3 separate regions of the Homo sapiens genome follow, and regions 1 and 3 are each linked to region 2. Evidence: fine-mapped expression QTL. A gene starts in region 2. Each other region holds a variant in brackets. All regions are shown on one strand. Distances are between the middles of the regions. Region 1 overlaps PRKCZ (protein kinase C zeta). Region 2 holds the start of PRKCZ (protein kinase C zeta). Region 3 overlaps PRKCZ (protein kinase C zeta).

Region 1 (9,718 bases), 120 kb before region 2:
CAAAGAACCGGAAGCAGGGTGTTCAAGAGATTACTTCACACCCATGTTCACAGCAGCACTGTTCACCATGGCCAACATGTGGATGCCACTCAAGTGCCCCCCGAGGGATGGACGGATAAGCAAAGTGTGGCCCCTCCATCCAACGGGGCATTATCCAGCCTGAAAAAGGAAGGCAATTCTGAGACAGGCCACAGCACGGATGAATCTTGAGGACGCTATGCTCAGGAAAATGAGCCACCGAAGGACCAACACTGTGATTCCACTCCGATGAGGTCCCTAGAGTCCTCGAATCAGAGGGACAGAAAGTGGGACGTGCCCGTCTGGGGTGAGGATGTGAGGCTGGGGCGGGGGACAGGGAGGGAGTGTCTGATGGGCCAAGCTTCAGCAGGGAAGAGGGGCGTGCTCTGGAGATGAGACGGGGGCCAGCAGTGGCTGCAAAGCATGGGGTGCATTCAACGCCACTGAATTCCATGCCCCAAAATGCTACCTTTTATGTTGTGTGTTGCCACAGTTTTTAAAAACAGCGTTGTGGGAAGTGTACTGTTCTAGATTTATTGCCTACTGTCCTATTGCCAGAAACAATCTAAGGTGACTCACAAAACTGCATGCAACGTTCTTAAGTAAGGAAATGAGGAAAAGGAGAAACTACAAAAGACAGGAAAGGTCCAGGGAGCTGAAATAAGCCCCCAAACGGTCCTGGAGGTCCCGCGGCTGCCGGGGGAGGCTCCTGAACCATGCTGGAGGCCCCTCGGCTGCCAGGGGAGGCCCGAAGATATCAGAGATGAAAGGGAAGGGCAGGAAGGAGTCTCTCAGGTCACTCTAGAAACAGACCACTCTCGTTCTGCTCCTAACGCTGAGGAAATGCTGGCCATGCTGTGCCACTAACAGGGTGAAGAGCAGAACCAGGGCAGAGCCACCATGAAGACAGCACAATCCCAGGAGACTCTCACTTCTCTCGGATGAGGCATGGTGCTGCTTCAGGGGTGGGGCCTGGGGGACTGGTCTGAGGCACCATAACTCAGGAGACCTCCCAAATGTTGTGACTCTGGAGCAAATATGGAATGTGTCACAATGCAGGGGACGTCACACTGTGGGGGACATGATGCCCTCTGCCATCCTACCTGGACTTCCCTCCCTTGAGCTCCCTGCTGACCCCTGGAGAAGGTCCCCGGCCCCCTCCACGTGCACCCCGCCCCCCCCGCCCCCGTCATACCCCCTCCGTGCACACCCCACCCAGCCACCTCCCCTCTGCGCACACCCACCCGGCCCCCCAACTCCGCGCGCACCCACCCGTCATCCCTCTGTGCGCACCCACCCAGCCCCCCAACACCGCACGCACCCACCCATCCCCAACTCCGGGCGCACCCACCCGGCCCCGTCCACGCGCACCCACCTGGCGTGCTCCTCAGGGAGCTTCCTCTGCCTCTGCATGTGGAACATCAGGTCCCCGCCGTTGACGTACTCAATGACCAGGAACAACCTGCAGGGAGAGAGGCGCCGGAGGCTGCAGTCACCTCGGCAGACGGCGGCCTCCTTAGACAGAAGCCCCACAGAAGCGGCCTTCGTGGGCCCGAACCCTCCCGCAGGTTCAGTCTTGCAAAGAGCAAAGAGCAGCAGGAGCACCCTGGCAGCAGAGAGGGGCTGGTGGGGACGGGCTGCGGGGCCGCTCGTGAAGGGTGCAGGTGAGGGAGTCATGCGGGGGCCTCGCCGGCCTTCACTCTTGGCCACTGTGTGTGGACTTGGGAAGTGTGGGTGGGCCCCGGAATGAAGGAGGTGGCCCGTCACCAGGTGGGAGTGGAGGTGGCTTGGACCAGGGCTGGGGGCTGGGACAGGATCTGCTGGGGGCTGGAGCGAGGCAGTTTCTTGCATGGGGACAGCACCGCAGGTCACGGGTGGGGTGGCCTCAAGGCCTGATTTCATTGCTGCAAGGCTGAGGAGTCCACCGGCCCTCCAAGGGAACAAGCTGGGGTCAGGGAGAAGCCAGGTGGGAAGTGGCATCCCGGTTTCGCAGACATGATCGTATGATTTTAAAAGATCCGCAGATGTCATCAGGACCACGCAGGCCCTTCCCGTCTCAGGGACTGGGCCACATGGTTTCTCTTCCTAATAAGATCTTTTCCTACATTTCATGAGACTCAATTTTCAAAATTAAATTCTCATACAATCTCCCAGAAATACCCTGTGGCGGGTTTTTTTAGGTCAGCGGCTCCTCTGGCACCTGAATTGTTTATTTGCTTCCGACTGGTGGCTGCTCCTGGCTGCCCCTCGTGGAGCGGGGAGTGAAGGAGGGAAGCGTGTGGTGACTCTGCCCGTTTCCTTCGATCCCACGCAAGCTCCCACACCACCGCCACTGTTACGCCTCAAGGCACCTGTCCCTGCTCCTGCCCTCCACAAGCTCCCAGAATTAAGCCAGAGAGGACAGAGGCCAGTTTACACAGGGCAGGTGAACTGGCTGCAAATCATCTGTGAAGTTTCTGATTGGAAACAAACTCCTAAAAATCGAAAGAGCCCTGGGCCCCAAGTGAGGAGCTGGAGAGACGTCCACGTGGCCAGTCGGGCACCCTGAAGAATAAGCCGTGCCTTTGGGGAGCGGCTGGGGAAGGCTCGTTCCTCGGCTTTTGTTGTCTCCCCTGCCTCCAACGGATGTGCCTGGAAATTCTCTGGTAACCTGGCCCTTGTCCTTGGGGACTCGCTGGTCCACTGCTCCCTGTTTTGTAAATAAAGTTTTATTGGAACGAGGCTATGCTCACTGGTGCATCTATTTTCTATGTCTGCTTTCCAGCCACCGTGGCAGAGGGAGTTGCTAACAGAGACCCTGTGGCCGCAAAGCCAAAAATGTCTACTCTTGGGCCCTTCAAGAAAAAGTTTGCCAATCCCCGGTATAAACAAAATAGCAATGACAGAAAGAGCAGCTCTGAGGGTGCCCTCGATGTGCAGGAACGTCCTCAGTGCACCCGTGGAGGGACTCGTTCAGTAACGTCAACCCCACGGAACGAAGCTCCATGAAGGCCTCCAACCCCTGGAGGACACCCACGACCTAAGAGTCGGTCAGAAAACGTTAAGAAAGAATTTATTCAAAACCCTTAGAGTGCCTGGGCGTGGTGGCTCACGAGGCCTGTAATCCCAGCATTCTGGGAGGCCAAGGCAAGCAGATCACCTGAGGTCAGGAGTTCGAGACCATCCTGGCCAACATGGTGAAACCTCATCTCTACTAAAGATACAAAAATGACCCAGGGCTGGTGGTGTGCACCTGTAATCTCAGCTACTCGGGAGGCTGAGGGCAGGAGAATCGCCTGAACCCAGGAGGCACAGGCTGCAGTGAGCTGAGATTGCGCCACTGCACTCCAGCCTGGGCGACAGAGCAAGACTCTGTCTCAAAGAATAAAATAAAAATACAAAAAACCACAAAAACCCTTAGGGTGACTTCACCGCACATTTTTTGCCACCAGGAGTTACACGCCCCAATGGGTGCTGGTCCCTTCCACCTGTCCCCCCGAGAGGAGCCACGTTCACCCCAACAGTGCTGCTGCGGCGCCTGGGAAGGGCCTCCACGGCCTCTGTGGGTTCATCCTAACTTTAAGCTATCACGGCCCATAGGACGGGGACAAAGCCAATGCCATTTCCAGAGAAAATAAAGAAATACATGAATTCTAGAGAAAAGCATCAATACAATGCCTCAGGAGGCTGAGAGAATTTGGGGGACATTTAAACACTTAGAGAGGTAGAGGCGGAGGCCGCTTCCCCTTCTTCTCCAGAGAAAAGCCAATCACGGGAACTGTGCTGAAAGCCAGTTCTCTCTGCCCAAGGCCTAGGACCCAGGCAGCTTGCTGAGGAAGGAATTTATTTAATTTGCAACTGCTCAAGCTGCAATGATGGTGGGGTTTTTTTGTCTACAGAAAAACCTTAATGCTACTTTTGACATTTCTTCAGAGCAAAAACCCACCAGGACAATCTGGTGTCAATTCACTCTAAGGCGACTCTGCGTGACACAAGCTGAGCTGGCTGCTGACAAGATGCCTGGGACCATGGCTGAGCATGCTCCGAGCCCACTCCTCTCCTCACGCTGGTGGTGTGCACCTGTAATCCACATGGGCTCGGCCCACTTGGGTGCCCCACAGGCGCTGTCCTGCATAGAGGCTCTCAGGCAGGG[G/A]CGCAAGGCCAGGCCAGGGGCGTGTGTGGCTTCACCCGTAGCCCCTCAGTGACACACACAGTCCTGACCCCAAGGGATGCTGGGAAGCACAGCCTGGGGGTGGGGGTGGGGGGCTGAAGGTGCCCCTCCATGTCCTGGTAGCCACACTCGCCATGTCGTGGCCTGGGGGGGGCTGAGGCTGCCCCTCCGTGTCCTGGTAGCCACACTCGCCATGTCGTGGCCTGGGGGAGGGGGCTGAGGCTGCCCCTCCGTGTCCTGGTAGCCACACTCGCCATGTTGTGGCCTGGAGGCGCTGGGGATGCCCCTCCCTGCTCCCTGTCCTGGCATTAACGCTCCTCTCATGTTTGCAAGGGGAGAGGAGCAAGCAGAGCCCAGATGGGAGGCGGGAGGCGGGAGTCATGAGACACGTGCCCTCGGGGCTGTTTTTCTGAGACAAGATCTCACTCTGTCACTCAGGCTGGAGTGCAGTGGTGTGATCATGGCTCACTGCAGCCTCGACCTCCCAGGCTCAGGCAATCCTCCGGCTTCAGCCTCCCGAGGAGCTGGGACCACATGCTTGCACCACCACCGCCAGCTAATTTTTAAATTTTTTGTAGAGAAAGGGTCTCGAGATATTTCCCAGGCTGGTCTTGAACCCCTGGCCTCAAGTGATCCTCCGGCCTCAGCCTCCCAAAGGGCTGGGATTACAGGTGTGAGCCACTGCACATGCCTGTCCATGATACTTAATCAAATACACAAACGTGAAGAACGCCAGCAAAAATGGATTCATCAACAACCAAAGACAAAGTGCAGCTCTCAGGAACCAGGCGAGACGCAGACCGCAGCCGGATCCAGTCCCTGACCCTGCCCTGGAACCGGCACCATCCAACAGACATGGGAAATGGAGGGACAGTGGCCGCAGGGGGATGCTGGAAGCTCACGAAACCTCCTAGGGGGCGGCCGGGGGCTGAGGGAAGCTCACAAAACCTCCTAGGAGGTGGGCCCTGTCCTTGGTGCCGCCCCCTCCTCGCCACTCCCCCCACCCCTTCCAGGAATGCAAGGTGCCCGGCTCAGAGGGAGGAACCACAGCCCTCTCCTGGAGGCACAGGAGACGCTGCCCTGAGAGTCAAGAATTAACCAGATGGGTCCGGGCGGGCCACCACCATGTGTGTACAGAAAGTTCTGGTGGAACACGGCCACACGCGTCCCTTCACGCAGTGTCTAAGGCTGCTTCTGTTTTAGAACGCATAGTTGCCACAGAGGCCGCATGGCCCACAAAGGTGGAAATATTTACTGCCTGACCCTTTAAGACAACCTTTGCTGACCGCTGGTGTGGCCCTCAGTAAGCGTCAGTCTCCAAGTCCCTCTGTGTTAACGCACTTGACCCCATCACCAGGAAGTAAGTTCAGCTCTCGCCATTTTACAGATGGGGAAGCCGAGGCACAGACAGGTTAGGGGACGTTCTCCGGCTCACACAGCTCCTGGCTTGTCAGACCCAACATCAGATGACTCGGGCGGGCCCAGAACCCTCACTTGGAAACCCCACTTCCAGGTCCTGTCCCCACCTCACAGCGGACATCACAGCGGTGACAGCACCGTCATTACAGGGCACGCTGGAAAATCAGATTCCTGACTCGGAGAGCAGGACGGACATTAAAGCTCTGAGGAAGACACCAGCAGATGAGGAAAGGCGGTAAAGCTGAATCCACAGAAGGATTTTACTTCGTCCAAAGAAATCTACTGGTGGGGATGCTGGCAGGCCTCGGATTTCTCCATCAAAGATAAAAGGCCAGAAAGTGCCCAGGAAATGCACTCGAGCACTGGAGGGCAGTGTGTCCCAGCGACAATGGGGCTCACGTGCAAAGGCAAACACGGGTGTCCTCAACATGAAAGGACGCATGGGAGGCAGCCCCTCACCTTCCTGGAGCCAGGAGACACGGCCTGGGGTGAAGTTGAGCAGAGGAGAAGGCAAGGCAGGGTGCAGCCGTGGGACTGGGTGAGAACACCCAGCCTCGGCAGGGTAAAGCTCACAACATCACGAAAGCCAGGGCGGAGCGAGGCAGCTGCCCTCCACGACACCCAAGGCCCGGCAATCGCACAGGGATCCCGCCAAGAGGTAATAACGCAATTTAGAATGTTCCCGGGAATTGAAAAATTAGGAAAATTTAAAAATCCAATGAAGCTTGCACAAGAAAGGGAAGCTAGAGATCAGACGCCAGAGTGTGCAGGGAACGCTCATGGTTTTAGGCTGCCTCGGCATCCATTCTGGATCTAAGCTGGACTTTCTCCCACCAGAAGCAGGGCTGTCGCCCTGACAGTTTCCAGTTCCACATCCCCCATTCCTCGAGCTGGCCCATCCAGACACCCACCCTATGCAACTGCCCCCTGGTGACTTCCCTGCAGCCCCACTGATACCACACCCAACATGGACTGTGCAGCCACACTGCAGAGTCCCCCGACAGTCACAGTGTGGCCCCACGGAGCTCAGGCCTGCTTGCTTTAAGTCCATCAGTTAAAACTTCCCATGGGAAACCTGTGTGCAGAACACCCTGGACCCAATAAAGGGTCCCTGTCTCTCTTTACGCTCCCTGGCCTCCCAGCAGGTTGTGTACCCCCAAGGCCTGTGGGTGACAAAAGGTGTGTTTCCATCCTGTGTCTCCCTTGATCACTGGAGCAGTAGCTCTGTGTCCTGAAGATTCTAAACTAAAACAATATGAATATCAACCAAAAAAAATCCTAAATAAAATATCAGCAAATTGAATTCAGAAGCACATTAACAGAGTAGCACACTAAGACAGGGCACGGTTTTCCCCAGGAATCTAAGGATGGTTCAATACCAGCAGCTACATTACGATGACACCATTCATTCCAGGAGGCCCTAAGGAGTAAAAATCGTAACAATGATCTCCACAAATGGCAAGGAGGCCCCTGCACAACTTGCAGTGTTCTTCTTTTTTTTTTCTTTTTTTTGAGATGGAGTCTCGCTCTCTCGCCCAGGTTGGAGTGCAGTGGTGCAATCTCCGTTCACTGCAAGCTCCGCCTCCCGGGTTCACGCCATTCTCCTGCCTCAGCCTCCCAAGTAGCTGAGACTACAGGCACCCACCACCACACCTGGCTAATTTTTTTTTTTTTTTGTATTTTTAGTAGAGACGGGGCTTCACTGTGTTAGCGAGGATGGTCTTGATCTCCTGACCTCGTGATCTACCCGCCTCGGCCTCCCAGAGTGCTGGGATTACAGGCGTGAGCCACCGCACCCGGCCTCAGTGTTTTTTCTTGATAGCAAAACAGAAATGGGTGGAAAGTCCCTTAATAGGACAAGTCACACCTCTGCATGCAGTTATCGGTCATCTTCTCTCAGCTTCACGCTGCTGCTCAGCCTTTCTAGAACCTTCTCCCAGTGGCTGGGGGCTGAGAGGCTGTATGTATCATTGCCAGGGCCTTTGCCAGCAGGTGTCCTCAGAGACCAGATGATGGGCCCAGGAACTGGGAGGGTCCGTTCCCGTCTCCAACAGCTCAGGCAGGGACAGCTCCTCTGTGGGCTCCAGAACCCAGTTCCACGGCTGCAGGCAGAGCCCCTGTCTCTCCTCTCCCCTGTGGCCCTCCCAACACCCTTTGCACATGCCAGGGCAAATGCTGCCTGCCCGAGATGGGTAAATGCTTCCGTTCTGCCTTGAGGATGGCACTGCGCTTCCGGTGCAAAGTGTTCCAGCTGGGGTCAGGAATAGGACAGGGCCGTCCAGTGTCAACGTCACCCCAGTGAGGCAGGTGCTGGCCACTGTCACCAGAGAGGAAGATGAACAGAGACGGCACGACCTGGTTGCAGCGGCTGAGGTGGGTGATGCTGCCCCACCTGCAGATGCTAACCCTGTGCATCCAAAGCCCCAGAAAACCACCTGAAAGTTACTACAAGGAAGAACTCAGAAGCCATGAAAGTTACTACAAGGAAGAGAACTCAGAAGCCATGAAAGTTACTACAAGGAAGAGAACTCAGAAGCCATGGGGCCCACAGTTACCACGCAGAGACCAAGCTGCCTGCTGCTGGATGCTCTGAGAGAAGAAAAAATACCTCGTTTATAACAGAAACGAGATGAAACACTCAAGACAAAATTAAACAAGGAAGTGGCCAGGCACCGTGGCTCACGCCTGAAATGCCAGCACTCTGGGAAGCTGAGGTGGGAGAATCGTTTGAGCCCAGGAGTTTGAGACCAGATTGGGCAACATAGCAAGACCCCCATCTGTAAAAATAATAATAATAATAATTAGACAAGGAAGTGAAGAAAACCACATGAAGACTTCAAGAGTCTCCTGAAAGAGGATGTGAGTGAATGAAAAGGTAAACCGGGTTCCTGAATGGGAAGATCCAACACTTAGAAGGATGTCAATTTCGCCCCAGGTAATGTGTGAACTTAACAAATCCCAATGAAAATGCCAGTTTCGGGCCAGGCCCAGTGGCTTACACCTGTAATCCCAGCACTTTGGGAGGCCCAGGCAGGTGGATCACTTGAGGTTGGGAGTTTGAGACCAGCCTGGCCAACAGGGTGAAACCCCGTCTCTACTAAAACTACAAAGATTAGCTGGGTGTGGTGGCAGGGGCCTGTATTCCCAGCTACTCGGGGGGTTGAGGCATGAGAATTCCTCGAACCCAGGGGGCGGAGGTTGCAGTGAGCCAAGATTGCGCCACTGCACTCCGGCCTGGGTGACAGAGCAAGACCCCTTCTCAAAGAAAAGAAAAGAAAATCCCAGTTTCTTTTTCTTTCTGGAGGCAGACGGGTTGATTATAAAGTCCACATGGAAAAATAAACAAGAGAAAAGGAAAAACGAGGCAAAACTGTCTGGATGGTGACGCTGGTTAGTCAAGGGTCTTTGGAGTGCGGACGAAGGTTCTTTCCTGCACGTTAAAATGGGATACAAGTTTATAAAGAGGCTCTTGTTTTATGTGGTCTCTGTCGTTATCTAGTAGTTAAGCAGCAAAGGCACAATTTCAGGACCGGTCCTGAAAGTTCCTTCAACTAAGGAGACTCCAGGTGGCTCCAGGGCTGCCACCCCTATCCCTGCTCATCCTGGGAACCATGCAGGGCGCAGTGGCATGGGACGTTCGGGTCTGGATGGAGAAGGGGAGATGCCATGACCTCATCTCTGCTCACTACTAGCAAAATCATCTCCAAGCCTGCAGTGGAGGTCCCCCGGTCCTAACGTGACCCCGAATGGCAATGACACCTGCCCCCTGACCTGTTCTAAGAGCGGCCAGTGCCTCCCGATTAGAACTACAGACAACGCATCCCTTTCTCCCGTGTTCTGCACAGTCCTGTGTGGCCTGTGACACCACATCAGGAAACAGCAGGGCCCCCTGTACACTGCAGGTGTGTCCCAAAGCCCATGTCCTGGGGGTCCCCGAGGGCCCCTCACTGCCCAGGGCTCTGGGAGGATGCATGCGCAGCTGTCCGCAGTGTTCCCGAAGAGTGCAGGACGCCCTCGCAATGCAAAAGGCAAACCAAGCCCCTGGCTCCTGCCAGGCCCCTGATGCTGGGAAGAGCCCCTTCTCCCGTGCACAGCCTTGTGGGGGCCACAGGCCCAAGCGTCCTGCTCCGG
Region 2 (9,718 bases):
GGAGTCGGCCATCACTTCACCTTTGACCTCTTCCTGCCCCACGCCCCTACCCCTACAGTCCTGCCTCCAGTGGAAGCCAGTTTCCGGCCAATCTAGAGGCCAGGTGGGTGGCTCCAGTAAAACCCCAGGGCTTGGGAAGTGTCAGGCCACCACCTCCAACCCTATCCCAATCCTGAATCAAACAGCTGCCCTGTGCCCTTCAGCAGGGGCGTCCAGGACTCAGCACCCAGCAGCCAGCTGGGCCGCCCGGGAGAGACTCCTGCGTCTCTGTTGGCCTCAGCACCAAGCCCTGGGCTTTGCACACAGAAGCTCCCTGAACACAAACGTTGTCTGAGCTGGGCCAGGCGCGGTGACTCACGCCTTTCATCCCAGCGCTTTGGGAGGCCAAGGCGGGCGGATCACGAGGTCAGAAGTTCGAGACCAGCCTGGCCAACAAAGTGAAACCTCATCTCTACTAAAACTACAAAAGTTAACCGGGCGTGGTGGCGGGCGTCTGTAGTCCTAGATACTAGGGAGGCTGAAGCAGGAGAATTGCTTGAACCTCGGAGGTGAAGGATACAGTGGGCCGAGACCACACCACTGCAGCCTGGGCAACACAGCGAGACTCAAAAAAAAAAAAAAGTCTGAGCTGAAAGAGGGAAGAGCCAGCACCAGTGTTTGTGGCCCTAGAAGAGCGGGCATCTGAGACTCAGCGTGGGAGTCTGGCCCAGGCCACCTGGGACTCCCTGAAAACACAGGTGCCTGGGGACCCCTCAGGCCCACAGGGGGCGGGGTGGGGTGGCGAGGATTGGATCTCAAGTGTGCTCAGAGGGCCCTGGGAGGACAGGCAAGGATGACGGGGTGGCCATGCCCCATGGGGGTGACTGAAGTGCTCTTCCTTTTTCTAAAGACTAGTCTTCCACGTGTCCACGCTCAGCTACCCCCACGGACAGCAGCGTCTCACCCCAGGGACAGAGTTTCTAGGGCTTTCAATAACCCAGTACTCATCCTGGCAGCCGCTTTCTGGAACTGTGTCATTGCCCTAAGGCCTGAGTGTCCCACCCCACAGCCAGTCCCCTCAGAGAGGCACCGGGTGCCCAGAGGGACGAGGAGCCAGAACGGGGAGAAGGGTACTTCACACTCTGCAGCAGAGAGGAGGAGGACCTGGGAGGGGAGAGAGGAGAGAAGGAATGGTAGGAGCAGGGAAGAGCCAGAGGGGAGACGTGCCCTAGAAGGGGGAGGAAGGTGAAGGAAGAGGTGTGGCAGGGAAGGGAGAGAGGGGAGAGCGGGAAGAGGAGGGAAAACAACAGGGAAGGAGGGAGGAAGAGGAAGGGGTGGGGAGAGAGGGGAGAGAGTCCGGGAAGGGAGGGAAGAGGAAGGGGTGGGAGCCTGGTCTCTCCAGCCTGGGAAACCAGAGTCACCGGGTGGAATTACACCCGCCCCACCACCAAAGTGCTCCCAGGGGCCAAAGCAAGGCAGAGGGAGGACGGGGCGGCCCAGAACTCCAGTGGCATTGCCTCCGAGCCTTGGTCCCAGGAATTGGACGCCGGAATGCAGGAGGGTCTGGGCCCCTGCAGCCCCTCGGGTGTGGACCTCCCTCTCGCAGGACTCCCCTGAGCTCCGCACCATCACCTGTTGCCCAGTGTGGTGGCTCCAGAATGGCAAGGAGACAGGAAGCCCAGGTCCCTGGACAAGTCCAATAGCCAGAACGTCAACCATACCAAGTTTTAACCTGCTGACCTCCAGGCCAAAAGACATGGCTGCCCTACCTCTTCAGGTAGGGCTGGACGGTCAGTCCCCCAGAAATCCCTTTCTTCTGGTTCTGGCACCAAACCCGGGCCACTGCACCCCGAAGGTTCCAGGTGCTTGCCACAGGGGAGCTGCAGAGGCCCCAACCTTCCCAAAGAAGAGACAATTGAGCCTCCTCAACAAACCCGGGGCCAAGCAGCCCCAGATGGCTGACCCGAGACCCCAAGACAAGGTTCGCAGGAAGCTGAACCCGCTCAGACTCGCAGGGCACCATAGAGACCCCCGGGGCACTGTCCTGAGAGGACGTGGCCCGGGGAAGTTGTCACCCGCCTAACCCTGCCGGCCGTCCCTGCCTCTGGGGCTCAGGTTGCCCACGCTGTAGCTGAGGACGCACCGGGGCAGGAGCAGCTTTTCGAGATCCCAAGGACCAGCCAGTGCAAGTCCGGAGCCCGCATTCTGCTCCCCTCCCTCTCTGCAGCAGCAGCCACCCTCGCGGGAGCGGAGGTCCCAGTTCGGGGCTCCTGGAGACGCGCACAGGTGGAAGAACAAACCCACGGGTCCTCCCCTCCCCACCGCCCACACTTCGGGGGGCAGCGACCCCTCCGCTGTGCCTGTGAGCCCGGCCACCTGGTGCAGCCCCCGCCACCCCCAGCAGCGCTGCCCCGAGGCGGCGGCCAAGAGTCCAGGACCCCTCCGCTCCAGCACCTGACCGCGCCCCCTCCCACAGCCAGGCAAGGGCCTCCGGGGGGCGGGTGCGACGCAAACCCCAGGGTCAGTCTCGGCCCCACCGTCTCCTCCAGAAACCCCTGTCCCCGCCCGACCGCCCCGAGCCCTGCCGGGGGCTGCATTGGAGCCACAGCGCCCGCGCCCCGGGTCTCCGGATTTTGGCTAAAGCGAGACCCCCGACCGGGTAAACGTGGAGAACGTTTAGGAAACGCTGATTTTAAGAAACCCGCCAGGAGTTTTCACAACTTGATGAAAACTTTCAGTCCTTACAGGTTTGCGGCCGGAACGTCCCCGCCCAACTTTCCAGCGAAAACGTCTACCACAATGACCGGGCCGAGGAGCTCGCGGCGCGGGGCCGACCCCAGGGAAACCCGGTCCCGGGGAAGGAGCCCGCGCTGTCCACGACGTGTCCGCGGGTGACGCTCACGGGCGGGGACCGAGGACCTCCCGCGACAGCCCCGGGCCCGCAGCGACCTCGCCGCCCCTTCCCTCTCTCCCTCTCGCGCAGGAGCCCCGACGGCTGAGCCCTCCCCGCCCTCCCTGCCTCACCCGCGCCGCTCCCCGCCCTCTCCGCCGCTCACCCCCCGTAATGCGCCTTGAGGCGGACGCGGCCGCCGCTCCCTTCCATCTTGGGGCCGGTCCTGCTGGGCATGGCGCGCTCCCCCCGCCGCCGTCAGCGCTGCGCCCCGGGAGCTCCGGCCATGGCGCGGGGCGGGGGCTCCAGGTGGGGCCGCGGCGGAACGCGGAAGGCAGCGCTCAGGACCGACGGCGCCGACCCGGTCAACTCCGCGGAACTCCGGCGGCGCGCGGGGCGGGAGCGGGGGGCGCGCGGGGCGGGACCGTCCGGCGGGGGCGGGGGGCGGTGTCCGAACATGGCGGACCGAGGTGGAGCCAGCGGCCAATCCGCGGGGCGGGCGGTCCCGGGGCGGGCGGTGGCACCTGCGGCCAATGAGGGCGAGGCGGGGCCGCCACCTGGGCCAATCCTCGGGGGACACCCGGCCGCGGCCCAATGGCGAGGCGCGGGCGGGGCTACCTGTCGGGCGGGGCTACCTGTTGGGCGGGGCGCGGCGCACCTGCGCCAATGGGACCGCGCGCGGCGCGGCTCTGCCCGGCAACCGGAGGGGCCCCGGCCTCTGGGACGGAGCGGCGCCCCCGGGAACTCGCTGGAAACGCGAGTTCTCGGCCTTCGCCCAGACCCTCCGAATCGAAACTCCTGCGGCGCGCGCTGCCAGCCCGAGGGCCCCGCCGTCCAGGGGTCCCCTGACATCTCACACTTGCGGACTGAAGCTGCGAGGAGCGGAGAACCCGGCCAGGGTCACGGACGGGAGCGTCCGGACTCGGGTTCTCTGGGCCCCAGCCCCCACTCCGCCCCCAGCGAATCCAAGGTCCCCTGTAGGGAAGGGCCGTCCACACTCGTGAGTGCAACCGCTCACTTCGCCCAGGTCAAGGACGCGGCATTGGCCCGAGTCGCCCATGACCTTCATTTCTGAAGCCACAGCCTCTCGGGCCTTACTCGAGGGGCTTGATCTGGACAATCGCCCTCCAGGCCCCTCCACCGCCGCCCAGCTCCCTGCCTCCTGGGCTCCTCCCCTGAAAATACGGTTTTCCCTGATCAGCCCATCCCTTACTGGCTGCATCCACTGAAGCCCAGACCTGCTGCCTGCAGGACCTCACCCAGGCACCAGGTGGACACCCAGACCCAGTTCCTGGCCTCGGCCCCTCTCCCCTGAGAGTGGACCTGCTCAGGCCACGCCCTCACACCCCTCACCCAGACACAGCCACCAGGACTTCAGCCACGTGCTTTCATCCCGCAGGTCGTGCCTGGCGCCTCCTTGATGCCAGGCCCTGGGGAGACCTGTGGCCACAGAACCCATGTTCTCCCTGGAGATGGACAGGAGGCCCCTCTCCTACGCAGAAGCTGTCGTTTTTTCTTCTTAAACACCGTTTGCCCCTCCCTCCACCCACCGAGCCATCTCTGCCCCTCTCTACAGCAAAGCTTCCGCCAAGCCGGCCCTGCTCCCTGTCTACCTCTCCTGCCACCACCCACTCACACGTTTTAAATACAAGCCGTCGGTTCTCAGACGTTTTCTCTTTTTTTCTTTCTTTTTCTTTTTTTTGAGATGGAGTTTCGCTCTTGCTGCCCAGGCTGAGTGCAATGGCATGATGTCGGCTCACTGCAACTTCTGCCTCCTGGGTTCAAACCATTCTCCTGCCTCAGTCTCCCAAGTAGCTGGGATTACAGGTGTCCACCACCATGCCCAGCTGATTTTTGTATTTTTAGTAGAGACGGGGTTTTTCCATATTGGCCAGGCTGGTCTCGAACTCCTGACCTCAGGTGATCCACCTGCCTTGGCTTCCCAAAGTGCTGGGATTACAGGCGTGAGCCACTGTGCCCGGCCTCAGACATTTTCTTAACTTGGCCTTTGGTATCAGACCCCTCCTGGGAAGGCTCACACATCCCTGGCCCCGGGTTCCAGCTCCCTAAATCTCCCATCCCTCGCCCTCCTGGTCTGCAGCTTTTAAAACTGTGGAGCCCCAGCCTCAGCCTTTGGCCCGCTTTGCATCCCCAGCTCAGATGGGCCCCCTGAGCTCCCAACCAACACTCACCCAGCCCCAGGCATCCTCCTAATGAGCCTCTCAGCTGACGTCTTCCCCCACTCCATCTTTCTGGGTCATCGAAGTCCCCCCAGTGGTTCCCATCACTCCTGGAGGGAAGGCCAGCTCCTCTGCCCCGGCCTCGAGGCCTCTTTGCTGCCCCGGCCTCCGTCTTTGCACGGCCACTCCCTCTTTGCACAGCCACTCCCTCTTCCAGGAGCACCTGCCTGCAGAGATCTGCTGGACTGGCACCCACACTTCCTTGAAGTCTCTAGCATACCTAATGCCCATTTCAGCAATCTACTCCTCACCCCCATCTCCATGGGGCAACCCCCTCTATCCCTCGCACAGGCACAAAGCCCCATGCCCATCAGCTGGGCATGAAGGGGGGCAGAGAGTAGAGGGTGAGGGGGCAGCCTGGCAGGGTACAGTGATGAGTGGGAACCTGCACCTGCAGCAGCCCTGGATTCAGGCACCCGTCGGCCCAGCTCCCCCACTCCAGGCCCCATGGCCAGGGCTGTGGCCTTGTCTGGAGTCTGGCCTGGCAACATGGCCTGGGCGCTTCCTGATGGGCAGGAAAGAGCAGGGTTTCACCTTAGTGGGGCGGTGCCTGGAAGGGGCCACTGGGCACCCACAGGACTTCCTGGCTGGCGTTCTGATCCAAGGAGGCAGCAAGGCCCGGTCCTTGATACCACTGCCCACAGCAGGCAGGACGGACCCTCGGTTGTGTCCTTCCCTGTCACTGGACATCTCTCCCTGGGCCTGCCCCACCCAAGGCCCCGGAGGACCCTTTCTAACCAAGGACGCCCCTGCTGGGTCAGGCCCTCGGCACTGGCCTCCCTGGGGAGATCTGTGCTGCCAGGCGGGAGCCTCCGTCCTGGAAGCCAGTCCCAGGGCCGTGGCAGTGCCCCAGTCCCAGCGAGGGAAGGTGGGGGGCGGGGCTCTATTCTCTCTGGGGTTGGGAGGGAGAGGGCAACGTCAGTGGATGGTCAACCCCAGTGTCAGACTTTGTTCAGCCCTGATGCCGCCGGTGGAGGGGGGGTCGGGACAGACACAGGTTCCGAAAGGCTCTAGCAGAGGACTGCGGGCACAGGGGCTGCCCAAAACGTCCCCAAAACCTCCCCCAGTACCTGCTCTGGCCTCCCCTCCAGGAGGCAGAGGTCTCCGCTAATGAGATCTGCAAAACAAAGGCCTGGGAGGCCCTGGACCCGCCTCTGGGCAGGCAGGGCAGGTCACAGGGAGGTTCCTAGGTCCTCTGCCCTGAGCCTGTGCCCCTGAGAGGGCCCTGAGGGCAGAGGGCGCTTCCTGAGACACGGATAGGCTCACTGGCTGGCGGTGGTGTCACTGTGTCGCCCGGCGACAGATACAGGGTGTTTGCTCTGGAATCTGCCAACGACTCCCATCCAGATCCCGGCTGAGGGCTGGGCCCTGTTAGGCCGGGTCCCCACAGCTTCTCCAGGCACCTGGCACACGGGGAATGAGTGAGTGACTCGGGTAAGGACCCCTCAAGAGTGCTGGAGCCAGGCAGCCTCCTAAGACCCCTAGTGGGTGGGGACAGAGTCATGTCCCATCGAGCCCAGCACACCGAGAAGGCACAGCCCTGGAAGCTTCCAAGGACTCACCCTGGGTCCTCCGGGGCGGGTGGGGTGTGGAGGTGACCCTTGGAGTGGGCAGGGCAGGCTCCGAGAGAGGCCTCTGGGTGGCTAAAGGCCAGGCTTTTCCACCTCAGCAGTTTCTGTAGCTCCCAAATTTTTCATAAAGTTCTCATATACTTTCATAATCATAAACACCTATTATTTTTTAAATGAAAAAAACAAGTTATGAAAGTCACACTGACTTTTTATAAAACTCAAGCAACACAGAACGGTATAGGGCAAGGTGAAGCCTTTTCCCAAAACCCCAGCTAAGCAGCAAGAACCCCGGCCGTGAAGCGGACAGCCTTCCCTCTCCCAGTGCAGGCAGCCTTCCCTCTCCCGGTGCCTGGGACCGCAGGTGGAGGTGCTAGGTGACCGCTGGGGCTTGGGGTAGGGTGCTGACCGGCAGAGGGCAGTGTGGCTGCAGGGTCTGGCTGAGGGTGGCCTCCCAGCAGGGCTGGGGCACCTGGGAGCCGCAGCTCCTGACCCCGCCAAGGTGGCTCTGTGTGGCTGCCGGGCCTACCCTGTGATTTTCCTTAGGAAGAGTCCTTTGATGATACTGTCGAGTGATGTTGAGACCTTTTAGAAGAGAGGCAGTTTACACTCAGTGTGATTCATCGGACGTCTGGGAGGGGTTGGCTGTGGCCCGTGGGGTCCCCATCACCACACCCCCAGGAGGAGGCCTCCCTCATCAGCCTCTTAAACTGCATTTGTGCTGGCTTAGTGCTTGGGACTGCCCAGAAAGGTGCCCGACAGGAGCAGGCATCTCACAGAGCCCAAGGGGCCCGGGTGGGTCTTCCTGCCAGATGTGAGGCTGCCCTGTGGGGTCCTGCGAGGACCACCGTCACAGGAAGGGCCAGGCGTTTGCTCACAGGCTCTGGGCACAGCAGCCGTGGGAGGGACTGGCCAGATGTTTCCTTTCTGTGTCAGGGATCATGGGATTTGGAAAAACTGGCTCAAGAGACAATGTCAGCTGCATGGGTTCATTTGATGGACGTTGGTTGAGGGCCTACTGGACGGAGGGCCAGGAGTTGAGCCAGGAATACAGCAGTGAGCTGGCCAGGCGGGGTCTCCTGGTGGGACGCTGCTGGAGACGGGCCACTGTCAGAGAACCACAGGAGTGCAGAATGGCTGAGACGGGCTGACCAGGTCCCCGGGGGAGAGGCTGGCCCCGGGACTGATGATGTGTGCAGTGGGGCAGCTCTGTGGCCCCAGGGAGCAAGGGCTCTGTGAGTGAAGGGTGCAGGGAGTGTGAAGAGGCCAGGCTGCCCCAGCGAGGAGGGTCAGGGGAGCCTCAGACAGGGTGTGGGGTGTGAGTGCCTGTGTGCTTATCTGAGTCTATATGTGTTTGTGTCTGTGTGTATTGTGTGAATGCATACATGTGTCTGTGTATGTGTGTCCACGTGTGTGTATAGATATGTCTGTGCTTGTGTGTCTGTGTTGACGTATGTGTGTCTATGCATGCATAGATGTCTGTGCGTGTGTCTTTTTTTCCTGCTTTTTTTTTTTTTTTAGGCAGGGTGTCACTGTGTCACCCAGGCTGGAGTGCAGTGGTGCCATATCTCGGCTCGCTGCAGCCTGGACCTCCTGGGCTCAGGTGATCCTCCCACCTCAGCCTCTTGAGTAGCTGGGACCACGGGCCCGTACCACCGCGCCCAGCTAATTTTTGTATTTTTTTGTAGACATGGACTACGTTTCCCAGGCTGACCTTAAAACTCCTGGGCTCAAGCCATCCTGGTGCCTCAGCCTCCCAAAGTGCAGAGATTACAGGCATGAGCCACCGGCCCAGCCTGCGTGCCTTTCTGTGCCCACGTGTCTGTGTGTGCCCGCCTCTGTGTGCATGTGCCGGCGCACGTGTGTCTGTCGCTAACTGCCTCCACGCGCCCGTGTGCCCCTCACTCCACAGCCGCCCTCCAGCGCCCGAGCTTCTGGGTACCATTCCTCCGGCGGCGTTTCAGGCCTGGCACTTCCCTGCTGGCTGTCCTGGCCTCGGGGAGCTGCGCGGGTCCCGGGCTGCTGGCGGCCGCGCGCAATGCGGAGCTTGCCCAGGAGGGGGCGCAGGAGGGACGCGCGGGGAGACGGGGCTCGGGCTGGCGGCGCGTGGGGGCCCGGGGAGCTCGTCCCGCACGTGGGTCCCTCGGCGACCGCGCAGCGCCGGCCCTGCCCGCTCTGGCTCCGGGGCCTCCGGGCCTCCCGCCCCACCCCGGGGCGCTTCCTGCTTGGCGCGGCTGCCCCCTTTTCAGCCCCGCCTCGGAGTCCATCCTTCCGGGCCGCCCTCAGCCCCGGGGGCCGCGTGTCCTTCCCCTTGCAGCCCCCCTCGTCGCAGCTCAGCAATCCTGTTTTTAAGTCGTCCCCGCTTAAAATCTGCGGATTGGGCCGGGCGCGGTGGCTCACGCCTGCATTCCCAGCACTTGGGAAGACCGAGGCGGGCGCATCGCTTGAGGCCTGGAGTTGGAGACAAGCCTGGGCAACATGGTGAAACCCCGTCTCTACAACAAGTTTAAGAATTAGCTGGGTGCGGTGGTGTGTGCTTGTGGTCCCAGCTGCTCAGGAGGCTGAGGTGAGAGGATCACCTGAGCCCAGGAGGTGGAGGCTGCAGTGAGCTGAGATGTGGCACCACTGCACTCTAGCCTGGGCGACAGAGTGAAGCCCAGCCTCTAAAAAAATAATAATAATAACTTAAAAATTAAATATTCAGATGGGACCTCACGAATGCAGTCTCTGCATATATGTGTGTAGTTCTCCACAGGTACCCATGTGTGGGGGGCCGTGTGTATGTGTGTGTGTGTGTGTGTGTATAGCTTTCTGTGTGTATCTGTGTGTGTGTCTGTAGTTCTGTGTGTACCTGTGTGTGTTTGTAGTTCTGTGTGTACCTGTGTGTGTGTGTAGCTCTGTGTACCTGTGTGTGTGTGGAGCTCTCTGTGTGTACCTGTGTGTGTGTCTGTAGTTCTGTGTGTACCAGTGTGTGGAGCTCTCTGTGTGTACCTGTGTGTAACTCTCTATGTGTACCTGTGTGTCTGTAGCTCTGTGTGTAC
Region 3 (9,718 bases), 27 kb before region 2:
ACACCGCGGCCAGGTGACACGCAAGGCCAGCACGGACAGGCTGCGTGGAGGGTGTGGACCTGGACCCAGCGATATAAGGAGGCTTCACCTCCTCCCAAAACACAAGGCCCCAGTCCTTATGAGAAAAACATGAGGCAAACCCCAGCGAAGGGCTGTCCCACAAAACACCTGACCAGCCCTCCTTAAAACTACGAAGGTCGTTGAAAATGAGGCAAGTCTGAGAGACCTGCCACAGTGAGAGGGACCTAAGGAGACGTGACGGCCAAGTGCCACGTGGGGCCCTGGACGGGATCCTGGGACAGAAAGGGGGCAGGAGGGGAGACTGAGGCAAGCGGAATAAAGCCTTAGCTGGAAAGGTGCCGAGACTGGCTGGTGAAGTGTAACTCACGCATTACGCTGACCAGGAGGGAGCAGGGAGGGAATGCTTGTGCTCTACTCCTGTCCTGATTTTTCTGTAAATCCAAAACTGTTCCAAAAACTGGTCTTCCCACCACCCCACTGAACGAGGGGGTGACAGAACTAAACTACCTGGGTCAAGCATTTGAAAACTGCCCCCAGGTCGCACGGGGGGCAGCATCAAGGAAAAACAAACAGAGGGGCCTTTGCCCTCCTTAAAACCCTGCACCACACCCTCCGGCCCCTCAGGATGCAGAGCAGTGGGACGTGCTGGTCCACACCTGCCACGTCCACGCGCACCGCCACGTCCACGCGCACTGCCCCTACCTAAAGACCTTCTCCAACTCTGGTTTTCCTGCATACTTTAGCCTTCAGAAAGCGTCATCACGATGGTTTCCAGGTGGACACAGCAGCTCAAACACATCACTGACTGACTCTCCCTCCCAAGACCAAAGGAAGAAAAACTCCAAAAAACCCGTAACAGCAAAGAGGAGGACAGGCCGGGTAGTGGATGCCCTGGGACCTGGAAGGCAGAGGGCCCCGTGGCCACCAGGAGACTGTACTGGGCCGAACCCCAAAGAAGGGCCCCAAGTCAGAGGCTCCAGGTAGCAGGAAAGTGGGGCACCTGCTGTGCAGGGTCCCAGTCAGTGAGGAGTCGACCCCCAGACCCCCTTCCTCACCCAAAGCAGCCAGGGAACGAGAGGGCTTGCGGGGGCAGCAGACTCCTTACTAGGGGTGAGATGCCCGGCCCTCCCAGGCAGGACACTCCCCTGGGGACTTCCGCCACCACCAGCTCTGTGGTGCCCCACGAGTCAATGTGGGCAGACAAATGCGGGTCACCAGGGGCCCAGGAAGCCGCAAAGGCCAGGACAAACACAAAAAGGGACTCTCGGTGAAAACAGCTGAGTACGAGGCCAAAGAAAACACCAAAAGGAGACGTTATCACCAACCGCTGCCAGCACACATGCTCCCACCATGTGCCGCCATCAGCAGCAGCCGCGGGGCCAGCGTTGTGGCTTAGTTACTGGCTAATCCCATGATAGCCTTGGGAGCCAAGCCTTTTACCATCACGCTCACTTATGAGGGTCCGGGACACGGTGGACAGCGTTGTGGCCGAGGTCACGTGGCTGGTGGGCAGCAGAGCTGGGGCCTGACCACGCAGCTTCAGGCCCTGGGGCACGCGGCAAATAGCGTGGGCTTAAGCCCAGCCCTTGGGGTTTGAGTCCCAGCTCAAACTGTGCGATTCTGGGAAATTTCTTGACCTGTCTGTGCCTCAGTGCTAATCTTTACCCAGAACAAAGAAAACAATGGTGCCCACAAGGAACTGAGAAGATTAAATGAGTTCACACGCGGGAAGCCTCGCAGCCATGAATGTGCTGGGTGCTGCTCAATCACCACATGATACCGCGGTGCTTCTCAGCCGGGACGAATAACCCCAGAGAAAAAGTGCGATATGCCTTTGACACAAGGGCAGGGCACTCTGCCTTAAAAAGGCACCTTCAGGCCGGGCGCAGTGGCTCACGCCTGTAATCCCGGCACTTTGGGAGGCCGAGGCGGGCGGATCACAAGGTCAGAAGATCGAGACCATCCTGGCTAACACGGTGAAACCCCGTCTCTACTAAAACTACAAAAAATTAGCTGGGCGTGGTGGCGGGCGCCTGTAGTCCCAGCTACTCAGGAGGCTGAGGCAGGAGAATGGCCTGAACCCAGGAGGTGGAGGTTGCAGTGAGCCGAAATCACGCCACTGCACTCCAGCCTGGGCGACAGAGCAAGACTCCATCTCAAAAAAAAAAAAAAAAGCCACCTTCAGAGAAAAAAGATCGAAAGACAAGAACGGGAACAAGGCAACAAACTAACAAACTTAACAGATGGTTTGGACAGAGAAACCTGAAGATGTCTCCTAGCATATAACATAAACAAAGAAATGGAAAATAGAGAAGAAAATTAAAGGACCAGCCTGGGAGGGCCAACAAATAATCAGCGTTAACTCTAAAAGAGAGTCAGAGACGGGGAGTCGGCCATGTGATAAATAACTGGGTGTAAAGCTCCTCACATCCAAATGTCGCAAGGTTCCACAGCACGAGTTCCCAGCACAAGAGACAAAGAAGTTTCCACGACAAGGAACATTATCATGAAACTTGAGAACCCTGAAGACAAAAGATTCTACAAGACTTTCAGGAGAAAAACACACAAAATCAAAATGGCACCTGACTTCTCGGTCACACAAGAAGCCAGAAGACAGTAGAGCGATCCCTTCGAAATGCAGAGGGAAAATTCTTTCCAATACAGAATTTCATACCTAGCTAAACTATCCTTAAGTGTGTGGCTGGAGGAAAAGCATTTTCCAACTAGATCCCCCAAACTGGCCTCCCACGCCATCTTTCTCAGACAGCTGCTGGAGGGTCTTAACCGGACATTAAGCCAAGAAAGAGGAAGAGAGGGAGCCAGAGATCAAGACTGTAGGCAGAGGAGAGAGGAGGGGACTGTTCCCAGCTCGGGGCACAGGGAAGCCCCACGGCATGTTGTGTGGGGGGCCAGGTGCACCAGGAGGGAGGTGAGGCAGGCATCGGTGGGAGCTGCCCCTCTTCTGGGAAGAGGAAACTGGAGTAAATTTGAGACAAGACATCTAGGAAACTGATTTAAACAATCACAATGTATTAACTCCAAGGAAACCCAAAAGTTGTGCCAACAAGGGAATGCAATCATGGTAGCTCATGCATATTCACGTCACCCGCAATTAGGTAAACACTCAATGATTAAAAACAATAAACAGTGACATAACTCCATCAGGAGGATGGAACAAGGAAGGAAGAGATGAGCTGATGTGTCCCAGAGAAAGTAGGGAAGTAACATCCTAAATGGAAACGACTAGAAATAGCAGCAGAAATGTGTCATTTAGAAATCTGGAAATAAATGTCAAAAAGAAACTGCTGTGATCCCCTCCAGGGAGTGGAGCTGGGGCAGCAGGGAGGACCAGGGACACCTGTTCTCTCTTTGTGAGTCCCACAGAACTATCAACACCTTACAATAGAAAATATGGAAAACTCAAAATAAAATTTTAAATATAATGTACAATGCAAACTTTATACACAACCATTTAACAAGGGCAACAACACAATTTCCTGACCAGGACAAGACACCAGGCCTGGCCTGTCTACACTTGACACAGCCTCACGGGATTCTTTCAACAATCAAGGTTCGCTGAGGAACAAACAGAAGAAGCCATCTGGGCCCACGATGCGGCTGAGCTGCCAGTGCACCTGGGTCCCCACAGCCCCAACAGACACAGGGCGGCTCCGTCTTGCAGTCGGTTGAATCTTTTCAAACTTCCCACAGAAGAGACGTTCAAAAAGAAAACTTCAGAAAGACCAGACACACTCAAACCCCCTATTTCAAAATAACATCAAGTCAGGGCCCCTTCCACCCACCAGAGCGCGTGTAAACTCTCCTGTGTGCCCGATACGTGAGCGTGGACGAAACGAAGCCCCAGCACCCTCACACCCGTCAGACGTGCTCACAGCACCGCCAGAACAACCGGCAGCAGGGATCTGTTCGTGTCAACTTGGTGTCTCGCCTCTCCTGACTCTGATCCTCTCTCAGGGGGAACAACAGACCTGTGGGCCCACCAAGGCTGCCCCACAACGGTGGAATCACTGGTTCTGCCTGGAGGCCTCACAGAGAAGCAGCCAGTCCCGAGCATGGTGGGTGCCCTCCTTCGCGTGTTCAGGAGAATCCTAGAAATGAGCTGCCGGGCCCCGATGCGTGGAGGGGCTCTGCCACAGCGTCTCCTGTATGAGTGACAAGTGCCACCACTTTATGACCAAAAACAAGCTGAACACTGGACGACCGACTGGTTCAGGTGGCTTCTTTTGAATAAAGCTTTTCCTTTTTTTTTTTTTTTCAAGATGGAGTCTCGCTCTGTTGCCCAGGCTGGAGTGCGGTGGCGCAATCTTGACTCACTGTGACCTCTGCCTCCCGGATTCAAGCGATTCTCCTGCCTCAGCCCCCTGAATGGCTGGGATTACAGGCGCTCACCACCACGCCCAGCTAATTTTTGTATTTTTAGTAGAGCCGGGGTTTCTCCATGTTGGCCAGGCTGGTCTTGAACTCCTGACCTCAGGTGATCCCCCACCTCGGCCTCCCAAAGTGCTGGTAATACAGGCGTGAGCCACTGTGCCTGGCCTGAACAAAGCTTTTTCTGCCCTTTGCATAAAATGACAAACATTTCTGGAGGCCCAGCATCATGCCAACCCCAGGGGCTGGGAGATGGGGATGCCTCAGGGTGCCTGTCCAGCCTGTGCTGTGAGGGACGGTGGGAGCAGTGGCCGCACGTTCCACTTCCCCCTGCCATGTGAGGGAGGTGGGGAGATGGCCAGGGAGTGAGTGGGCGCCAGGAGACCAGACCTGC[T/C]GAGCCCACACTCGAGCACCACGACCAGCACAGCAAGGGACCTGCTCCTGGTTTTTCAGATGTCATCACACTTTCCCACAGGCTTCCCCTCGATGGCACTGGGCACCCCCTCAGCCCCGGCCCCAAACAGCCCATTCAGGGGCCTGGCCCTGTGACAGCTCCCTGCCCAGCTCCTGGGAAAAGCTCCACGCCAGCACAAGAAAGGATGGCTACCCCACATTTTGGGATCCTCAGCAGAGGTTGGTGCCTGACCCCATGGATGGTCCTCCCGCCCCCCAACAGTTCAACCTCCATGTGCCCGGCTGAGTCCTCGGCGATCAGAAACGTGTGGCAGATGAGACGCAGCCCCCGCTGCTACACACACGAGAGCAGGTCACAAGCACGGGAACTTCTCAGGATGCTCAGTGGGCCTCTCCACTGGGGCCATTGACAGCCCTGGCAGGTCCCCACCAGACCCCGTGGAAGGTCTGGGGCACCCAGTGTGGATGGGCTGGGCTCTCAGGCACCCTGTGGACACTGGGCTGACAGATCTGATTAACTGGGAGCCTCGGAAACATCGCAGCAGAGCCCGGAGCCCAGAGGTGAGTCTGGGAGGTGGGACCAAGCTCGGAGTTGGGCAGAGGAACACACAACTCCTTACATAACCACCAGTGGCTCTGAAGTCTAGGAAGACGGTCGGAGAAGGGCCCCCACTGATGGCTGATGCAGCTGGGACAGGAACGCGGAAGATGTGTGCCGATCTGGCCGAGACACAGACACAGGTACCACAGCCGGCCCCGGCAGCATCAACACGAAACAGCTTCTGGGGGGCAGCCGGTGGCCCCTCCAATCTGTCCCCATCCCAGCTCTGACTCACCCACCGAGGGCCATCAGACCAAAAGCCAGTAACCGCTCGAATCCTGACCCTGGCCACGGCGCTCCCACCCCAGCAGTGTATTCACACCGCAAGGGATCGTGCCAGCTGTGCATGGCCAGCGTGGGCTCACACGAAAGCAGAGGCCAAGCCGTCCCAGGCACCGAGGAAACTATGACACAGCACGTTTCTCCTCGCAGGCAGGCGCACGTGTGAAAACCACCCCAGCTCCGTCTCTCTCCCACTCACCCCATCAACACAGAATCTTCATCACTCAAGGACCCCTGCGGCCCAAGCTGGCTGTGCGGAGCAGCCCTGCGTCTGCTGAGGTCCCTTCGCACCTGGGGGAGGGGCGCGCTGCCAGCCTCCCCAGCAGCCAGCACCCCCCGAGAGGGAAAGCCGCCTCCCCCAGCAGCCCAGTCCCCACCTTCAGCAGCCCAGTCTCCCCAGGCCCACGGCTCCCCACAAGCCTGACTGGGGAGGCTGGTTGTTGTTTTGGTTTTTTGTTGTTTTTTTTTTTAAAAAAAACACCTTGCAAAATGGTCGTCAGAAAAGCACCCACATTCCCACATCCCTGCCAAACACCATGCAGCCCCCAGACCCCTCCGAGTCTACCTCCAACCATTTCAGAATAGAAAACAGGACGCCGCAGCCCCGCTCCTCGCCACCATCCGAGGACCCCGATGGAGTGAGCCGTGCACATTAACCCTGGCTGTGCCACCCAGACTCCAACCCAACACTGTCAATGCAAAACGGGGGCTCAGACAGGCGGGAGGGCAGGCTCGAGACGGAAAGACCGCAGGCCTGGAACAGGTGCTGGCTGTTACCACTACCAGCCCTGGCACCTGGGGTCTCCAGACTTCACCCGTGGTCTCATCAATCTGCCCACCTGCAGCAATGCAGAATGGAGACGAAGCGGCCATCCGTCCTGGCCCCGACAGACCCACAGACCCACAACCAAAAAGCATCGGCCACAGTGAAACTCCCAACAGCCAGCAACTCCCTGGGGCCAGGCAGGCAGACGAGCCCAAGACGATTTCCCCAAGCCCCCCGGCCCCCAGCCCTCCACAGCCACCGCCACACATCCACCAGGCCTGGGCCACACACCATCCGTCCTCGGGGTGAGCATGTCCCTCCAGCAGCCCCTGCCTCGCTCAGAAGGTCCCTCCACAGCCTTATTTTTCTAAAAATCTGTCACCCGCAAAACAACAGCCTCTCACTGCGTTTCCCCTGACATTGCTGGGAGCTGCTGCAGCCGCACGCCTTCCCCGGGCCGTGGCACCAGCCGTGTTGCTGCCCGGAGCATCTGTGCAGCGCACAGGCAGCGGCAACGCCGGGACTCAGACCCAAAATGCTGACTCGGGCACCGTCCTCCGCACGCACAGGGCCTGCAGCACGGCTGGCCCGGCCCCGGGGGCGCGGAAAATCCACGGGGGAGATGCCCCCGACTCACCGGCTTTCTTCTCCTGCCTCCTCAGCGCAGATTCTTTATGCTCTGTGCGCGGCGGGCGTGCAGGGAGGCATCTTCCTTCCCGTTGACGAGCTGATGCTGCGTCGGCTCGCCTCCGGCCCCGACAATAGGCAGGGAGGCTCGAGCGCGAGGAGCAGATATTTAACGGAAGGCCGGCTGTCCTGTCCCCCGCCCCTCACATCCCTGCCTCCTCATGTCTCCAGGCCCGGGTGGTACCCGGCTCCCCCGGGAAGCTGTAGCCAGCAGCTGAGGCACAAACTAAAACACGGCATGGATGTGCAGGAGCTGACGCTGACGTCACAGGAAAACAAGCATCTCTGCATCAGCACAGTCCAGAGAGCGGGCGGGCAGCAGCCAGACCCAGGCAGGGCTCGGACTCAGCGGACCTTGAAAATGCGACATCAGAACAGAACCCAGCTAAGCCCGGGGTCCTGCAGGTTGGCCTGCCAGGCTGGGAGTGGGGGACAGCGCAGCTGTGGCCGTGGCGAGTGACCTCTGACCTGCGTCCAGAGGCTGTGAATGGGCTCGACACCAATGGCCAAGGGCCCCGAGCACTGTCCCGCAGCCCAGGAACGGAGCGGGAGGAGAGGAGGCATAGGGGCCTTGCGATGTGGTTGTGTCCACCCCACAAACCCCACCAGTGTGTGTGGGGACGGTGGGCACTGGGGGGCAGGAACAGGAAAGGCCAAGCTTCCCCAGGCTGAAAACTGTCCCGGCTGGCCTGGAAACGCACACCCTCAGCCTAAGGCAGGAGACACCCGCATTCCCAAGACCAGACCTCACGGGCTGTGCTGTGCCTGGCTGTGGCCAGCCCGGGCTCCTAGGGAGACCCAGAGCCGCCACCGCCGCTGGGTGGCCTGACCCTCCAACCCCTACCCTGGTACCCTGACAAACCCTGGGACCTGGTCATCACTGGCAAGTGAGACCTGGCATTTTCCTCCAATCATAAAAAACATGGGGGGTCGCGGGGTGCTCAGCTGGGAATTCTGCCCACTTCCCCAAACGCACTCGGCACTCGTGCTGAGCCTACATGGGCCGCTTCGCACTGGGGGTGCAGAGGGACAGAGGGGAGTGTCCTGCAGACCTCTGGCTCTGACCAGTCACACCACACGCTCCCTGCATTCATACGTGCTGTGCCCTCGATGCTCCAGCACCTATGGCCCTGCTGACCCTGGAGGGACGGCCCCGAGAGGCCAACCGATTCCTAGAGACAGCAAAGGACTTGTCCCACAGCGAACCTTTCAAATGCAAACCCACCAACCCAGAACTCTCACCTGGGCCCACCTCCTACACGGGCCCCCAGTCGCCCCAGGGGCCTCCCCAGGTCACAGGGACAGCCCCTGCACCCCAGAGCCTGGCTGAAGTTACTCCACCTGGCCGACCCAATGCCTGCTCCCCACACCTTTCCCATGGAAACCACAGTAAAGGCCCCACCCACACATCCCCCTGCCTCCAACCCACCCGGCGCTTGCCCGCATGGCCCCGCGAGGCAAGAGGAGGTCTCCTCTCAGAAGCTGAGTAATAAACGACCTTCTCAACGGCATCATCTCCTGATGGCTGGCCTCCCACACCTGCCTGAACAGTAATAAAACCTCCATTTAAATCATCAAGCTCATAAACCTGTGTTTATCTGCATTCACGGAGTGGACTCCGGGCCAGAGCCCCGGGTTCAAATTCCAGCTCTGTCAGCAGCTCACCACGAGGCACGGCCACTTCTCCAAAGGGCCAAGCTTCCCTCGTCAGGCGGCTGACCAGCTGCATGAGGGGCATTCCGTAAAATGTGAAACATATAAACCTAACACATGCGTTTCACTCGACTTCCCAAATCTATGGGGAACGAGGGCTGGCAACCTACACTGCCTAGTGCTCCAAATCAGCAAGCTAGGATTTCTACGCTTTTAATTGGCTGAATAAAATGAAAAGGATAATATTTTGAAACACCGGAAGAGTCTATAAAATTCAGATTTCAGCGTGCATAAAGTTTCACTAGGACACGGCCATGCACCTCCTTGGGTGCTGCCCACGCCTGCTCAGAACCCCAGGCTTCAACTACCTGGCCCTGGACAGAAGCAGCTCGCAGACCCCTGGCTAGGCCTATAAAATCATAAGACCACCGAATACCATGGCCACGCTGAGCTCCCACAGGAAATACGCATTTATCCTGGTCCAGTGTAAACTTCACACAGACGGCCGGCTCAGCAGCACGACCACTGTCCTTCAGCCAACTCCTCTCTTCTAATCCATCCCAAAATATCCAGCTTTGCAGAACTCTAGGATATTCAGGCTCAGCAGGCAAATTGCCAATTTTATTAGAAGCCTATTTTAGGGGGAAAACTAGCTTTTCCAGTTTGTTGCAAATAATTTGAGACAAAGCTGAATGAAACTGGATTTTTTAATAAAACAATAGACATACCTATAAATACCAGGGAATCACAGGCATCCGTTGATAGGCTTCCGTGGTAACCCGCCCACCCAGGCCTGGAGGACACCAGCAGCGTCCCCACTGTTCCACAGGCGGTCGCGCAGCCCCACTAGGTTTGGCCGCCTCCTCTCAGACGCCGCCGGGGCCTGGAACACACTCGGTGGGGCC

The links. PIP is the estimated chance that this variant, and not a neighbour inherited with it, causes the effect.
Region 1: its variant is the best candidate, but not a certain one, in a credible set for the expression of PRKCZ in whole blood (TOPMed, PIP 0.84).
Region 3: its variant is the best candidate, but not a certain one, in a credible set for the expression of PRKCZ in blood mononuclear cells (TOPMed, PIP 0.89).

What each region holds. Positions count from the first base shown.
Region 1 is chr1:2,161,280-2,170,997 of GRCh38, reverse strand. PRKCZ (protein kinase C zeta) reads right to left here. Exons shown (of 18, transcript NM_002744.6): 11 at 1,394-1,480. Among named protein-coding and RNA genes, the nearest start is that of PRKCZ-AS1, 18 kb to the left of the region's middle. The variant G/A (reference allele first, on the strand shown) is at 4,151.
Region 2 is chr1:2,044,019-2,053,736 of GRCh38, reverse strand. It overlaps PRKCZ (protein kinase C zeta), which reads right to left and starts at 3,326. Exons shown (of 18, transcript NM_002744.6): 1 at 3,036-3,326. The coding sequence starts at 3,106. PRKCZ-DT (PRKCZ divergent transcript) reads left to right here and starts at 3,667. Exons shown (of 3, transcript NR_135509.1): 1 at 3,667-3,869; 2 at 4,071-4,139; 3 at 4,269-4,536. LOC105378590 (a long non-coding RNA gene) reads left to right here and starts at 6,290. Exons shown (of 4, transcript XR_007065357.1): 1 at 6,290-6,543. RefSeq lists silencers at 3,139-3,748, 8,668-8,747, 8,808-8,857 and enhancers at 5,684-6,437, 6,438-7,191.
Region 3 is chr1:2,071,322-2,081,039 of GRCh38, reverse strand. All of the region lies in intron 4 of PRKCZ (protein kinase C zeta), which reads right to left. Among named protein-coding and RNA genes, the nearest start is that of PRKCZ, 26 kb to the right of the region's middle. The variant T/C (reference allele first, on the strand shown) is at 4,805.